Linked DNA regions of Homo sapiens: region 1 is linked to region 2. Evidence: fine-mapped expression QTL. A gene starts in region 2. The other region holds a variant in brackets. All regions are shown on one strand. Distances are from middle to middle.

Region 1 (8,342 bases), 27 kb before region 2:
GAATGGGTTGGCTTGTCTGCTGGAGTTGGAGACAGGCTATGGTAGAATGTGCACGGCTGCCAGGATCTTCATGTTTAGTTTTTTCTTGGAAAAAAAAAAAATGATGTCCTGAAACTCAGAGCCACCAGTCTGTTCAGGACTCATGGGTCTGTGTCCTCTGGTAGCCTGTGGATTGAATGTGCTGACTGTGCTGTCTTCTCACAGTGCCCTCACCCCTATCAGTAACTTGACAGAGACTTGACCCATGGGTCTCCAGGTGACTTCACCGAAAGACACAAAGATGCTTCCAACTTCATTTGCTGAAGAGAAGACTTTGAAAATCTGAGTTTCTTTTCTTAGTCATTGGGAATTTGGTGAACTATCTACTCAGGACCTGGGTGAGGGCCAACAGTATATCTGACATAGGAATCCTTCATTCATTCTGACTGGTGGTGTCCAGCTTCTGATGAAACACTCAGTGTTAGGAAGTTTGAAACATTCCAGGGCTGCAGGTTCTGAGTAAGACACCTATGCTTGCTAGAAAATCATTTTTTCACCTAAGCCAGTATGTGTATTCTTTTGCTTATATTTACCAATCCATCCTTATGTCCAATTCCTTTTATTAAGTACTTTGAATAAGACATGTCCTCTGGCTTTATGTTTCATGCAACTCTTTCTTTGCACATAGATGTATCTTATGTTTTCAAGAATGAGAATGGCTCATTTATTTACTAATTCCACCAAATCTGTGATAGGGGATGGGGACACATATACTAAATTAGGGGTGTCAGACTTGTGTATTTGTCCTAAGACAGAGAAGGAAATGATAATTATGATAGATTCTGTTCTCTGAAATTTCCATCCCAAGGCCCAGCATAATAAAAGAAGAGCAAGACCAAGCAGATAGGAGGCAAGAATATTATGTTTCTCTTTTCCTGTCTCATGTGAACTTACCTACTATATAATTCTCTATTAATCCTGACAACACAGCTAAGCTTTTCACACAAGCCCTGTATAAATACATTGTTCTGCTGTTATCTTCTGACCCACTTGTTTCCTCAGATATTATTGCTTAGAAATTATATATCTCTTTTGCTATCACTGTATCTTTCTCTATTTACCTGTCTATATTATTTAGCCTTGAAAGATAATTTCCAAGCCTATTTCAGGTGGGGTGTAGAAGGTTGGAAGCTGTCCAGGAGGGAAGAGTATAGCAAGAACCTAGAGTTTTACTTCCCCTTATATTCCACCTCTGCTCTTATAATTCCCTTTGACACAAAAACAAATACCCCAGAGAAATAATGTATTACATAAAAAATTGCTACATGCTAGATATATATATTTTTGGAGTATATGTGATATTCTGATATATTCATATAATAGATAATGATCAAATCAGGATAATTGGAATATCCATGACCTTAAATGTTTCTTTTATGCTAGGAACATTAAAATTATTCTCTTCTAGCTATTTTGATATATACAGTAGATTGTTTTCTATAGTCCCTACTGATTTCTTGAACACTACATCTTGTTATTTTTTATATCTAGCTGTATTTTTATACTCAATTAATCTCTTATCCTCCCTGCCTCCCTTCCCAGCCCCCAATAACCACCAATCTGCTCTCTATTTTCATGAGCTGTACTTAGCATCCACATGAGTGAGAAATACAATAATTGTCTTTCTGTACCTGGCTTGTTTCACTTAACTTAATGACCTACAGTTTCATCCACGTTGCTGCAAGTGACAGGATTTCATTCTTTCTTATGACTAATATTCCATGTGTATCATATTTTTCTTTATCCATTCAGATATTAATAGCACTTACATTGATTCCATGTTTTGGCTATTGTGTCTAGTACTAAATATAGGAATACAGATATCTCTTTGACATATTGATTCCTTTCTTTTGAATAAATACCTAGTAGTGGGATTACTAAATCTCATGGTAGTTATATTTTTAGTATTTTGAGGAACTTCCATACTGTTTTTCAGAGTGGTTGTATTAATTTGCATTCCCTCCAGAATTGTTGAGGACTAGATATGCTAATGGCAGCACAAGGAAGACTTTGTTCAGCCTTAGATGAAAAGTATTGCTTTTGGGTAAACCAACTGTGAAAAGTACAGGACAACATCACACGACTTCCAAATCAAGCCTCCATTTATTATGGGAACTTGCCTCTCAGGGTTGGTTAGATAGGGAAGGAGCCTGGAAATGGTTCTCCTGGGTTCTTTCCTTTTTAGGACCACTTGTTATTCTCCTAGTTTTGCACCTTTTTGGTTCAGGTCTTCTAAATTCTAAACCCAATTTGTCTCCTCTCACCCCCAGGCCATCAAGCTCCAGATGGTCCTCCGTGAGGTATACTGTCCTCTCAATATTCAAGAGGTACCCTTCTACAGGGAACCGCTAGACTGCTCATCAGTGGACAGAAAGTAGGCAAAATTCTGCCCCTGGACCTGGCTGGATACCACTTTTGCTAAGCCACTGAGTCACCCTCCTGCCCTGACAGCAAGAGGCCAAGACCCACAGAACCACCACCACCACCCCTCTGTCAGCAGAAAGCAGTTACAAAAGACTGACCTTCATCCATTTTCCTCCAAAGATTTGGGGTCTTGGGCTCTTGAGTGGGGGGAAACATTACAGGTAGTTAGACAGGCATGAGTGGGGCAGGAGGGGGCCCTACCACCTACCCACCAGGAATGTCTGACTATAGTCAAGTGATGGTTGGGCAGTTACCACACTGCCCCTCTAAAAATGATAACTTGGCCATCAGTGCCAGGGAGAGACAATCTCCCGATGGTCCAAGCTGCCACACTAAAGTGTTAATTGAATTCAGGTACCTAAGAGAGGCAACTTCCCAAACAGATGAAAATACTTGAGATTGGTAATCAGTTTCCAGTAAAATCACAGGAAATGAGCAAGTGAGCCTGGGCATGTTCATTAAAAAACAAAGTGGTGGAGTATGACCTTCCAGAGGCATTCTGTCAGAAAACTGAAGAAAGCCTCAGATGGGCATGCGTACAACTTCTTAAACACACTGCGCATGCTCACTTCCTAAGGGTAAGGAGGGCACTGTGCATTCAGGCAGCCCACCCTAAGGGAAGAATCATGGGAAAGGGGTGCAAGACCCTGGAAGTGGGCCATCTTATAAAGTCCCAGGATCAAGATTAAGTGGGGCACTTGTCCTTCAAGTCGCCTGCTTGGGTCTCTTCCAAGTGTACTTTCCTTTCTTTCCTGCTCTAAGGCTATTTTTTTTTTTTTTTTTTTTTTTTTTTTTTTTTTTTTTTGAGATGGAGTCTCTCTCTGTAACCCAGGCTGGAGTGCAATGGCATGACCTCGCTCATTATAACTACCGCTTCCTGGTTTCAAGCTATTCTTCAGTCGCAGCCTCCCAAGTAGCTGGGACTACAGGTGCCTACCACCATGCCTGGCTAATTTTTCTATTTTTAGTAGAGACGGGGTTTCACTTTGTTGGTCAGGCTCATCTCGAACTTCTGACATCAGCTGATCCACCCACCTCAGCCTCCCAAAATGCTGGGATTACAGGTGTGAGCCACTGTACCTGGTGCCTGCTCTAAAGCTTTTTAATAAACTTCCACTCCTGTTCTGAGACTTGCCTTGGTCTCTTTTTCTGCCTCATGACCCTCAAAATTCTTTTTTCTGAGGAGGCAAGAATTGAGGTTGCTGCAAACCTGTACAGATTCACTGCTGATAACTTGGATACCTTATATACGCATAACAGAAGCAGATATGGGACTAGATATTGGTGTTAGAACAACTAAGTTCCTCTTCAAAACTTAACTTTCTTGTTATAAGTTGTAAGATTGTAAATTAGCCCTTCTCCCTGCTTTGGCCTTCAAAGTCCTCATCTCACTACCTTATTTGGAAGAAGTTTCAAACTTCCTTTTTCTCTCTGTTCTGTGACCAACCCTTCCCTCCTTGCTGCACCCAGATATGCCTAGACATGCCTTCCCTCCTGCCTAGTTAATAACAGTCTCTCCCTCCCCTCCTCCCTTTGCAAATTGTGCATTTACTCCATTTGGAAAAGTTTAAGTCTTTTACCCTATTTGGAGAAGTTTAAGTCTTAGCCAATCTGGATAGCTTAGATTGTGAGGTCCAACTGCAGCCAATGGGGAAAGGACACAGAAACAGGAATTAGGGATAAAAACCCCTTTTCTCCTTTGTTTGGTGTGCTCTTGCAATCGTGGCTGATGCAGGTAGCACTGTTCTGCAGAAGTAAATTGCCATTCTGAGACAACTTTTTGCCTGAGTGCTGGTTCTTCTTTGTGGCATCAAGCATTTGTTTCTAACAATTTGGGGGCTCATCAGGGATCCCATTCTCCTCTGGGGAAGGGTCTGCAAACCCCTGTCATGAGGAGATGCATCCCGCTGCCTCATTGCAGTGGCCTCAGGAATAAGGAATTGAGCCCCACCCAGCGTGATGAATAAAACCAGGACTCTCAGCAACATGGGAGGAAAAGGCCTACAAATACTGCAGTGACCAGGTAACTGTGCACAGACTGTGGTAAGAAAAACCATAGGGGCAGTAAAGTATTTCTTGGTGGTCAGGGCATCCTGGAGGTTGAAAAGGTGTGGGTGAGCTGCACAATTGAGTGCGAAGCCAGTGTGGTCCTGATCTGCAGTTCTGTGGTCACCTCATATGGCTTACGCTGGATTCCTGTCGTGGGGTTTACATCAACATGCCAATGCTAAGAGGGACCTAAATTCACTCTGTGGAAGCAGCCAGAGGTGGATGAAGCAAAAGCAAAGGAGTGCAAGAAACCTCCAGTAAGGGGGTTGAGCCTCTAGAGTAGAGGGTACAAGAAATCTCTAGTAAGAGATGTTGACCCCCCACTTAGGGGTCACACTCAGGAAACACCTAAAGCTTCTAGGATGGGAAATAGCCCAAGCAAGACAGGATAAAAAGGAAAAGATGGGCAATAAAATACACTCAGATAGCCCTCTAGGTCTCGTGTTAAAATATTGGAAGGATAAGGAAAGAACTAAACAGAAGAAAAAGCAGCAAATGATAAAATATTGATTTTTTATTTGGACCAAAGAACCTATCCTCAAACCTTCAAGTCTTCTAGCCAAAGTTTGGGTCTAGTGAGGAATGGATTTGTCAACTTTTAATAGAGTATGTCAATAACAAAAGTCCTATCTCCCTGGAGGAAATAGACTATGCC[T/C]TGTGTTGGTGGCAGAGGCCTGTCATCCTCTAGTCCATAAAACTACAGGACACAAGCCAGAAACTACTTCCTCTCAAGAAATTAATATCCCTCACCCCAAAAGTGTAACACGTGGGCTGCCTTAGACCAACTTCCCCCACCAAACTTCCTTCCCCCTCCTACAGACCAACTTCCTCCTCCAAACATTACTAACTTCCCTCCCCCTCCAGCAGTTGCAACTGCCTCAAACTCTTCCCCAACTCACATTGTCATTTCCCTCCCTTATGACCCTGACTCTTGGGGCTGTCCCCAGCCCTCCCTTAGGAAGGCTTCAACATGAGATAGAACAATGTAAGAAGGATATCCAAACTTTCCTTTCCCCACTACCTCTAGAGGATTGGCTGCAAACCTTTTTCCCTTAAGGGAAGTTCCTCTAGGAGGAGGGGGCATTGGCTTTGTGAATGTCCCCTTAACCAGTTCAGAAGTCCAAAGCCTGAAAAGGGAACTAAAACCACTCTTAGATGATCCCTATGGAGTAGCAGATCAAATTGATCAATTCTTAGGCCCCCACTTGTATACTTGGGCCGAGTTAATGTACATCCTAGGCATCCTCTTTTCGGAAGAGGAAAGAAGCATTATCTGTAGGGCTGCTATGACCTTTTGGGAGCGTGAGAACCCCCCGGTCAAAACATCCCTGCAGCTGAACAGAAATTCCCTCCTCAAGATCCCCAATGGAATAACAATATAGCCTATTGAAGAAATATGAGAGACCTAAGGGAAATAATTAAAGGAATTAGAGAATTGGTGCCCTGCACCCAGAATATTACTAAAGCCTTTAATACACAACAGGGAAAAGATGAAGGGCCCATGGAATTCCTCAACAGACTTAAGGAACAGATGAAGAAATATGCAGGTTTAGATGTGGAGGGCCCACCTGGACAAGGGATGTTAAAGCTCCACTTTGTCAGCAATAGCTGGCCAGGCATCACAAAGGAATTACAGAAGACAGAAAATTGGAAAGACCATTCCATAGAGGAACTTTTAAGAGAGGCCCAAAAGGTATGTGTACGGAGGGATGAAGAAAAGCAAAAGCAAAACGCAAAAATTATGTTGTCCACCTTACAACTCCCTAACAGGCAGCCCAGGGAAATAGAACTTACAAATCTTCTAAGTCCCTGGCTGTCAGACCCTACACAGAAGGAAAAGGGATCAAGCCAGACAGCCATGAAATAGAGAAAAGAAGCAAAATAAATGTTTCAAATGTGGAAAAATAGGTCATATTAAAAGAGAATGCCCTGAATGGGAAAAAGAAAAGGAAGTTATTCCCCTTATGGCTTTTGAGGAAGATTAGGAGGGTCAGGGGCTCTGTCTTTTCTATATTGAGTTCCACCAAGAGCCCTTGATAAATTTAGAGGAGGGACCCAAATTCAAGCTTATTACCTTTTTAATTGACTCAGGGGCAGCTTCCTCCTCTGTTTATCATTCCCCATCTGGTGTAATTTGTTCACAAGAAGAACTCCTTATTTCAGGAGTGAAGGGAGAAGGATTTAAAGCAAAACCTTTAGAGGAAACAAAAGTCATATATAAAAATAGATCAGCTAATATACAATTTTTGTTAATACCAGAGGAAGGAACTAACCTAATAGGAAGAGATTTAATGCTAGAATTAGGCTTAGGCCTCTATGTTAACCAGGGAAAATTTCTCACCTCTCTAAACTTACTCACTACTATAGATGAAGAGTATATCCATCCTAATACCTGGTCAAAAGAAGGAAATCAAGGAAAATTATTTGTTTCCTCAATAAAGGTCAAATTAAAAACTCTTGGGGAAGTAGTAAGAAAACAACACCCTATTCCTTTAAAAGCTAGGATAGGTTTAAAACCTATAATTGAAAGCCTTGTTCATGATAGACATCTTGAACCCTGTATACCCCCTTATAATACCACAATATTACCTGTAAAGAAGCCAGATGGGTCATACTGGCTAGTGTAAGACCTCCGGGCTATTAATCAAGTAGTTCAAACTACATACCCTGCTGCTCCCAATCCTTACACCATTAACAGCAAAATCCCACCTAACTATGAATGGTTCACTGTAAAACCTGAAAGGTGCCTTCTGGACTTGCCCTTTAGTGGAGGACAGCTGGGACTTGTTTGCCTTTGAGTGGGAAGACCCCCGATCTAGTTTAAAACAACAGTACCCATGGACAGTTTTACCCCAAGTGTTTACAGACTCTCCAAATCCTTTTGGTCAAAATTTAAAATAAGTCATAGAAAAATTTTCCTTGCCCTCATGCATATGCCTACTCCAGTACATGGATGGCCTGCTTATTTCAGGGGAAAACAAAGAATGGGTAACAGCATTTTCAATCAACTTCCTTAATTTTCTAAGAGTAGAAGAATTAAGAGTCTCAAAAAGTAAACTTCAGTTTGTAGAGCCTGAAGTAAAGTACTTAGGAATTTTAATCAGCAAAGGCAAATGGAGGATTGGGTTTGAACGAATTGAAGGTATTATATCCCTACTTCTGCCAGAAACAAAAGAGGAGCTTAGAACGTTCTTAGGCTTAGTTGGATACTGTTGCCTATGGGTTGACTCTTATGCCCTAGAAAGAAAACTGCTATACCAAAAACTCAATTCAGAGGGAGTCGCCCCCACTTATCTGGACCCAACCAGAAATGCGACAGATAGAAAAATTAAAACATTTACTAGTAACTGCCCCTGTTCTCATTCTACCCTCCCTAGAGCAGCCATTTCATCTTTTCGTCAGTGTAAACAAGGGAGTGGCTTTAGGGGTACTCACCCAAGATCATGGGGGCCACCAGCAGCCCATAGCCTTTTTGTCAAAAATTCTAGACCCAGTAACCCATGGATGGCCTGCATGTGTCCAATCTGTAGCAGCAACTGCCTTGCTAACAGAAGAAAGCGGAAAATTAACCTTTGGGGGAAACCTCATTGTTAGCACACCTCACCAAGTCAGAACTATTCTCAACCAAAAGGCAGGAAGATGGCTTACTCAATAATTTTAAAATATGAAGCTATCCCACCATTAGAAAGGATGACCTAGCACTAACCACTAAGAATTCCCTAAATCCCATTGCTTTCCTAATAGGAAATCCAAACCCAGAAGTAACAGGGAACTCACACCCAAAGAAACCATAGCATAAATGTTTAGACCTAATTAGTTGCCAAACCAAA
Region 2 (8,342 bases):
CTGGATAACCATTTTCTAAAAAGATTAGGTATATTAAATGAAATAAACCAGCACAGAATGACAAGTACTTCATGGTCCCACTCATATTTGGGAGGTAAAGAAAAGTCGGTGTTACAGAAGTAGAGACTAGAATAGTGGTTACCAGAGGCTTGGAAGAGTAGGGGGGAAGAGGGTATAGGGAGGAGTTGGTTAATGGGTAGAAAATTGCCCTTTGGGTAGAAGGAATAAGTTTTAGTATTCCATAGCACACTAGAATGACAATAGTTAATAATTTAGTATAGATTTCAAAACAGCCAGAGGAGTGGATTTTGAATGTTCAACACAATGAAATGATAAATATTTGAGGTGACAGATTATCTCAAATTGATTACCCTGATTTTATCATTACCAGTTGTATACATGTATGGAAATATTGCCTGCACCCTCTAAATATGTACAATTAATATGTGCCAATTTTTAAAAAAAGGATTAGGCATGTGTTTATGAATACAATCAGCCATCTCAGCAGAAGCCAGGAATAGAGATGGGGCTATGCAGGAAAGACTCACAGGAATCCCTTTTATCTGATAGTTTGGACCCCATGAATTGCATCAGAGACCAACATGCTTTTTGAGAATTTTATTAGCAGCAGAAATGAACAGAGTTAGGATGACATGAAAGAAGGTAGCTGGACTTCCGGGATTCCAGAGGATGGCCCAATACAGCTATTTAGCTGCAAACGTGCATTATCCTTAAAGAAAAGGGAGAACATACCCTAAGGTTGTTCAGAGGTTGGCAGGGATACCACTGCCACCACAAGCCCAAAAGACACAGATCCAGGAGGTTAGGCTGCCTCTTCCTTGGTTCCAGAGGGCAGAGCCAGCCCATTGGTTTCAGAAGGCCAGGGTGCCTCTAACCCAGGACTGAGGGATTAGGGCTGCTGTCCATTGAGTCAAAAAGGATTATTCTGAGCCTTAAATCAAGTGTAATTTGCCCTGCTAGGTTTTAGACTTATTTGTGACTCATAACACTTTTATTCTGATTTCTCCCTTTTTGAGTGGGAATGCCTATCCTGTGCCTGTTCTACCATTATATTTTGGTCACAGGTAGCTTGTCTGGTTTCACAGGTTTATAGATGGAGGGAAATTTTGCCTCAGGATGGATTCATACCAGAGTGTCACATAAACGATTTAGATATTACATTTAGATGAGATTTTGTATTTACAGTTAACCCCTGGAATTGGGGATGCTTGTATTTTGCATGTGGGAAGGACTAGACTTTAGGGAGCCAGAAGGCAGGGTGTTATGAGCTGAATTGTGTCTCCTTTCAGTAAACTCATATGTTGAAGTCCTAAACCCTAGTATCTCAGAGTAATATGACTGTATTTGGAGATAAGGTCTTCAAAGAGGTTAATTAAGTTAAAATGAAGTTATTAGGATGGCACTCAATCTAATACAACAGGTGTCCATATAAGAAAAGACACAAGGAGAAGATAATGTCCAAGCCAAGGAGAGAGGCCTCAAAAGGAATCAACCTTGCCACACCTTAACTTGAACATCTAGCTTCCAGAATTGAGAAAATAGGTTTCTGTATTGAGACCATCCAGTCTGTGGTATTTTGTTATTACAGCCTAGAAAATGAGTATATTTTCATACATCATCTTCCACAAATGCATTCTTGTACTTCATTTTTTGTGACCCCTTTCATTGTTTCCTCAGAGACTACTGTTTAGGAAGCATCTCTATCTCTCTCTATATTAGTTATCTTTGAAACAATCTCCAAGCATTTGTCAGGTGTGGTGTAGAAGGTTGGAAGCTGTGCAGGAGACAAGAGTATTGCAAGAACCTACACTCTTGCTTCCCCTTATATTCCATCACTGCTCCCATGAATCCCTCAGACACAAAGACAAATGCCTCATGTAGTCAACACCTCTTGATTATTTTGTCTGAGAATAGTTGGGGCAGGTGGGCAGCTAAAAAATAAACACTAAGTTGTAACCACATATAAACAAACATGGAAAAGAGCATGAATTTTAAAAGGTATTTCCAACAAGAGAAATCTTATTTTCCCATTGACTTATACGGGGAATAACATCATCCTTAAGGTCATATCTATCCCCAGTGAAGAAATAATTTTGTTCCCAGAACAAGTCCAGTAGTATAAGGATCCCATAGACAGGTAATATATCAACATAACATTAGCACAGCCAGGATTAGTCACAAATAGTAAAAGGAAAATTACCTTCTCTATGAGCTCATTTGAGTTTAGCACACAATCAAAACATGAATAAGAAATATGAGTAGCCTACAGGCACATATAATTTTATACCCATATAGATGGGTATATAGATTAGGATAAAGGAAACTTGATGCAGTTATCTAGGCCTAGATGCAATACTTCTAATCACTCAAAAACTAGGTCATCCCAACATTCCAAGCTAGGACACAGAGGTGCACATCATCCTTAAAGTAGGATCAATGCTTGAGTATAGGATCCTGTTCTGCCTAGCAACCCTCACAACACCTTCCCACCTACGTGTTCCTCAAGCAAGGAGTCTTGGTGTTATCTTTGATTTCTTTTTCTCTCACAGCCTGGAGCTAATTTTTCAGGAATTCCCACTGGCACTTAAAAAATAGATATAAAATCTGATACATCTGATTTCTCTCCATATATATGATTAACACATTGATTTGGAAACACCATCTTCTCTCTGGATGCCTACAATAGCATCTGTAATCCTTTCTCTGCTTTCATCCTCATCATCTTGTGCTGTTCCCATTAAGTCAGAAGCAATATCTAAAAAACATATGTCAAATAATGTCAATTCACTGCTCAACCTTGGCTTTTATTCCGAGAGAAATTATGAACCTTTGCAAAGTGAAATCCTTACATGGCTGATATGGTTTGGCTCTGTGTCCACACCCAAATCTCCTCTCGAATTGTAATCCCCACATGTCAGAAGAGGGGACCTGGTGAGAGGTGATAGGATCATGGGGGCAGATTTCCCCCTTGATGTTCTGTTTAAAAGCGTATGGCCCCGCCCCCATTCCCTTTTTCCTGCTCCGCTGTGGTAAGACCTGCTTGCTTCCCCTTCATCTTCTGCCATGACTAAGTTTCCTGAGGCCTCCCAGCCATGCTTCTGTACAGCCTGCAGGAACTGTGAGTCAGTCAAACCTCTTTTCTCCATAAAAGTACCCAGTCTCAGGTAGTTCTTCATAGCAGTGTGAGAACAGACTGATACAAAGGCCTACAATGTTCTGTGTGATCACAGCTAACTGGAAAAAAAAAAAAAGAAAGCAGCACCCAGGTATGGGTAGGGCACATTATATTCACAGGATCAACAATAAGACTGATATTAATAGATACTTGACTTCAAAAAAAGCAAGTGAAGGCAGAATACAATTAATATACTAAAGTGGATGAAAGAAGAATTGCCCATTTAAAAACCTATTCAAATTGAAATAGAATTTTAGACAGAGGCCCGGGAGGTGAGTCATCTTTCACAAACAAAGATGACTAAGATAATTTTACAAATGAGCAAAAGTTGATGGAATGTGTCACTATATGGCCTGTAATAAAAGCAAAAATAAAAGTAGTTTTTCATGCAGAAAAAAAATGATCCAGATGGAAACATGAAAAACCTGGAGGGAATGAAGAACACCAAAACAAAGATGCATATGAATGTAAAAGAATCTAGATTTTACAAAAGAAAAGATAGGGTGGGGAGGATGTCAATGAATTAAACAGTCTAAGTGTTCCAATATTCCAGCAGTTATCTCCAGCATGGTTTGAGCCAATGGCCCCACTGCCCACTCCCCCACTCCATGTGCTTCTTATCCTGCTCCTATGATGTCAGGATTGCCCATTCAGAATGGAGTTGGGGGCAAATTAAGGTGCTTTGTTCACAAAAACACTGTCTATTCTATCTGGCTCTTGTCTGGCTTTTATCTGGCTTTTGCCATATTAGGTTTTGGTGAGGTGCTTTTCATACAGGCTGTATCCCCTTGGCCTAGCTGTACATTGTTAAAACTATGTAGGAATTCCACTTTATCCCAGCATCCCAAAAGATCAGACTTATCATGGAGGAGTGCTGAGTCCACACCCTTGAGGGCCAACTATTACAGAAGGGGAAGTTAGTTCCAGGGTACCTGTGTGGGAAGGGAGTGAGATGACTGAGTTACAGCGTTCTGAGATTGCTTTTAAAAATTATGGGGAATTAGGGTAGACAAAATCCATGGAGAACTCTAGTGAAAAGCATCTTCTCAGGTCCTTGAAAAATAGCACACATTAAGTCAGCTGTAGGTAGAAAGATCACTCTTTATCATTTATAGATGATTGGTAATTTCCTAATTATTAATAAGGAATCACATTCATAGTGGCCTCTTGTTTATCTACTTAGATCCTCCTATCCTTGTGAGTTAGAAAATATTGTAAAAGTTATCTCTACCTTAGAGATAAGAAAAATAGATCAGGGATCAGACAGGTGCCAGATCAAGTTCACGAGCTGGTTATTAATGCATATCTCAGGCCAATATGAAATATGAATGCAAAATAAAATGCCTAATGGATGACCTTGGCCTGGTCAGGCTGGACTCCCTGCCCTTTCAAGTCAGTTCTGACAGGAGTTGCCTGCAGTGTATATTTTCTGATGAGGCTGGCTTTCTTTGAAGACACTGTAAGGATAAAGAGTAAGGAGAGGCACAGCAAACACCAAGACACAAGCCAGCTCCACCTGAAAGTCTCACAGCCTCTGGCAAGTAGGGCATGACCCCTGGTAGGCACAACTCAGTGCCACTAGCTGGGGAGGAGGCATGGGTTGTAGGAAACAAGGATACAGTCCCCTTGGGTCAGGGGAAGTCCCCTTGCATCAACCCAGAGAGAGGAGGCCAGAGATGTCTCTGAGGACTCTGCTCAAGTGCAGCAGTTTCTGCTTCCACAGCCTTCTGGGAGAAGGGCAGAGGTTGGTGAGGATTAAAGCCAGCTGCTCGCTTCCCAGCTTCCTCCTTCTAAGACTCCTTAGACTGAAAGAGGAAGGCGGCACTGGTGCTGCATGAAGCTAATGAAAAGGGCCCAGGATTGTAAGTCAGACTGAGGACTGTGGATACAGCTGCAACTTAGGGAAATAGAAAACAAGTGATGTTATTGGGGTGAGCAGGAAGGTGGGAGTGAGCTGGAAGGTGGGGGCACTGTCAATTTCTTCCCATAGCCATTCCTGATCTTAGGCATCAGCTCTCCAACCCTGTTATTGCTTCTACTCTGGTCCTTCAATAGAGGGAACAGAAGTCTCGATAGTCCCACCCAACTGTTTGGTACACAAACTCCAGATGCTCTCCCCACCACAGAGGATGCCTGCTTCCGTCCTATGCCAAACACTGTGGGCCATCTCCAAGAAGTCTTAGTTGATTATTCCAGTTTGGATCTGTCACTTCTCACCTCCTGTCATTGCTTTTTCTAACCCCTGGCAAATGCCCCATCCCAGTTAAAGGGCTTCTGCATTAGTCAAGAGGAAGAAAACGAGGCCTGAACTAGAAAGATGGCAGGGAAAGGTAAGAAATACCTTATCTTTGAGGTTCTTCTACCAGAAGCAGTCCTGAAGTATCTTGATTATGTGATTATCCTTCCTTGTCTGGTTCTAAGTTTTTCAGATATGTCATTCTGATATCCTTTTAAGATAAAGGTATAGGCAACCAAATAGATTCAGTATTAATTGAGTCCATTCTGGGTACAGAGGCCTTTTTTAAGGAGAAATAGAAGATAAATCCTTTGAGCATGGACATCTTAGTTCTGAAAACAATGAACAGTCTGGACAAAACTTGCACTACAGAGGAGGTCTTAGTTTCTGGATATTAGGGGAAGAAGACTGGCTCCATTCACACTCCTACTCAGAGCACTTCATTCTGAGGAGTTGATTTTAGATGAACTTCAAAGGAAGTAAGATTTATGAACTATTAGACACCCTGTCTTTTCAGGAAGAAATCTGATAGAAGAGATGCCTTTTTTTCTTGTATGAAGATGGGTAGACAGCTCACAGGGTGGTTAGTGATGTTTAAAAGTTGAATGGAGGAATCTAGGGGGACATGGAGACTCAAAGTAAAACATGTGGGTTTTGTGGAAAATACATATTGAGATAAGGTAAAGATGCAGCAGGTTTGTGGGATTATTTCACAGTATTTTAGAAGAGTTTCTTAGACGCCAGGCATGTTTCTAGGTACTGATATGTACTTGAAAATAAAAATGTCTGTTGTCATAAGAGCTTGTTCCTGACAAAAATGCACAAACATTATGAATATTTAAAATAGTATTTTCCATTAAGAAGAGAATTTTATTCTGATGCAGGTAACAAAGTATTGTAATCGGGATGCTTAGAACCTCCATTCTGGATGCATTTTAAATGAGAAGATAACCCAAATTCTGAGCTTAAATCACATGAGGGGAGTAGTATTCTGAGAAATATGTCTTCCAATAATCTAGTAGTCTGTTTTATTTAGTGAAATGTTCCACACCTATGTATGTTAGAGGCTGGGTTTACAGAAGGAAAATAGGTAGAGTTTCTTAACTCCAGTCCCTTCACTTCATGATATGGTGGGTAATTGTTGAAGGATAAATATTGGAGAACAAAGTGGAACTTTGTGTACTTGTTAGGATTCTTTTGTAGCAGTAGTTGCTGGGAGATGCTGTGGCTTGAACAAGGGTGATGGTGTTGGAAGGGTGGAAGTGTTGGAAACGCAATGGGCAACGTGGAGATTTACTATGTAGGATGATCCAGTGTGCTTGCTGATGATTAAATATGATGCAGGAAGAAAAGAGAAGAATCCAGGATGACTTGATTCTAGGTTGAGCAACTGGTTGGGCAGGATGTTACGTTCTGAGATATGGGCAGCACAAGAAGAGAAGTAGTCATGATTTCTGCCTCAGGCATGGCAGGTTTGACATATCTGTGAGGAAGATATGTGGGGATATCGAGTATGGAGTTGGATATCCTAGTCTGGAGCTTACAAGGAATGTAAGGTATGTAAATTTGTGTTTGTTTCAGGATATGTTTATATTCTCAATGATCAACCAGCAGACCACCTAGAAAGATGCAATATTCACGGTCTTTTCAGGAGCAGTATTCTCTTTCTTCGTCTAAGTTTCAACTTTTCCCCTACTACTGGATAATTTGCTTCAGCTAAAGACATGATACTTCTGTTCTAAAACACACAGACACACACACACACACACACACACACACACACACACAGTTGACTTCGCTTTCCATTTTAGCCAGTGCCCTATTTACTTGCTGTCCTTTGCTTCCAAATTCCTCAAAAAAGTTAGCCATGTTAACAAACTTCAATTCCCCTCTTATCTATTCTAACTCAGTCAAGTCAGGCTTTGCCTGTCTCTCTTCTAGCAAAATTGCTTTTATCAAGGTATCCAATCCTCTTGTGCAATTCTAAACACAAGGCCAATTGTGTTTTCAAGTTCTTTGACTCATCAGTAGCATTTTACATGGTAATAATCCACTTGTTAGTAAACTATATTCTATATACTAAGATAGTACATTATTTGGGGATGTTTCTATCTTAATAGTTTCCACTGTCAGTTTCCCTTGCGAATATCTCAGTGTGCTCCAACTCTTCTCCCATCCATTCTTAATGTTGGGATTCAGTTCTGGGTTCTCTAGTTCTCTTTTCTGTGAACATTTACTGTCTGGGCGATCTCAAACAGTTTTGTGGCTTTAAATATGATTTATTTTCTATACGTATTACCATATTCACTTGAATTTCTGATATCTCAAACTCACCATGTTCAAAAATTGAAGTCTCGAGCTCCTCCTTTCATGCTTTCCCCGTCTCAGTTGGGAGCAGCTCCTATCAGTGGTTTATGCCAAAAATCAGGGTGTCATCTTCGACTCCCTGTTGTCTCACTTCCTATATCTAACCTGTCAAAAATGCCACTGACACATTTTAAAAATATATCCCCAATCCTATTACTTCCCACTACATACACTGCTACCTTGATTCTGAGCCAATGTTCTCCCTTCCTTGGATTCCTGCAATAGTCTCCAGGTACTTTCCCCCAATTCTACCCTTCCCTCTTTGTGCTATTCTCCATCATAGATGCCAGGGAAAACTTTAAAAGTATAAGTCACATACATCTCCTCTCTGCTGAAAACAATGTCCTTGATTCTGAGAGAAATGGGGAACTTTTGCAAAGTCCACAAAGGCCTGTGGGGCCCTGTGTGATTTGGCCCCACTGTTCTGACCTGATTCTCCTGCTCATTTGCTTCATCCTACCTGTGCTGGCTGCCTGCTGATATTTGAATAACAGGTGTTTTTATGTCTTGGGGCATTTTCTCTGGCTGTTCCATTTTCTTAGA

What was found. PIP is the estimated chance that this variant, and not a neighbour inherited with it, causes the effect.
Region 1: its variant is the best candidate, but not a certain one, in a credible set for the expression of OR52K1 in blood mononuclear cells (TOPMed, PIP 0.81).

What each region holds. Positions count from the first base shown.
Region 1 is chr11:4,450,302-4,458,643 of GRCh38, forward strand. OR52K2 (olfactory receptor family 52 subfamily K member 2) reads left to right here. Exons shown (of 1, transcript NM_001005172.2): 1 at 1-60. Among named protein-coding and RNA genes, the nearest start is that of OR52K2, 5.2 kb to the left of the region's middle. The variant T/C (reference allele first, on the strand shown) is at 5,168.
Region 2 is chr11:4,477,651-4,485,992 of GRCh38, forward strand. OR52K1 (olfactory receptor family 52 subfamily K member 1) reads left to right here and starts at 4,996. Exons shown (of 2, transcript NM_001005171.3): 1 at 4,996-5,526.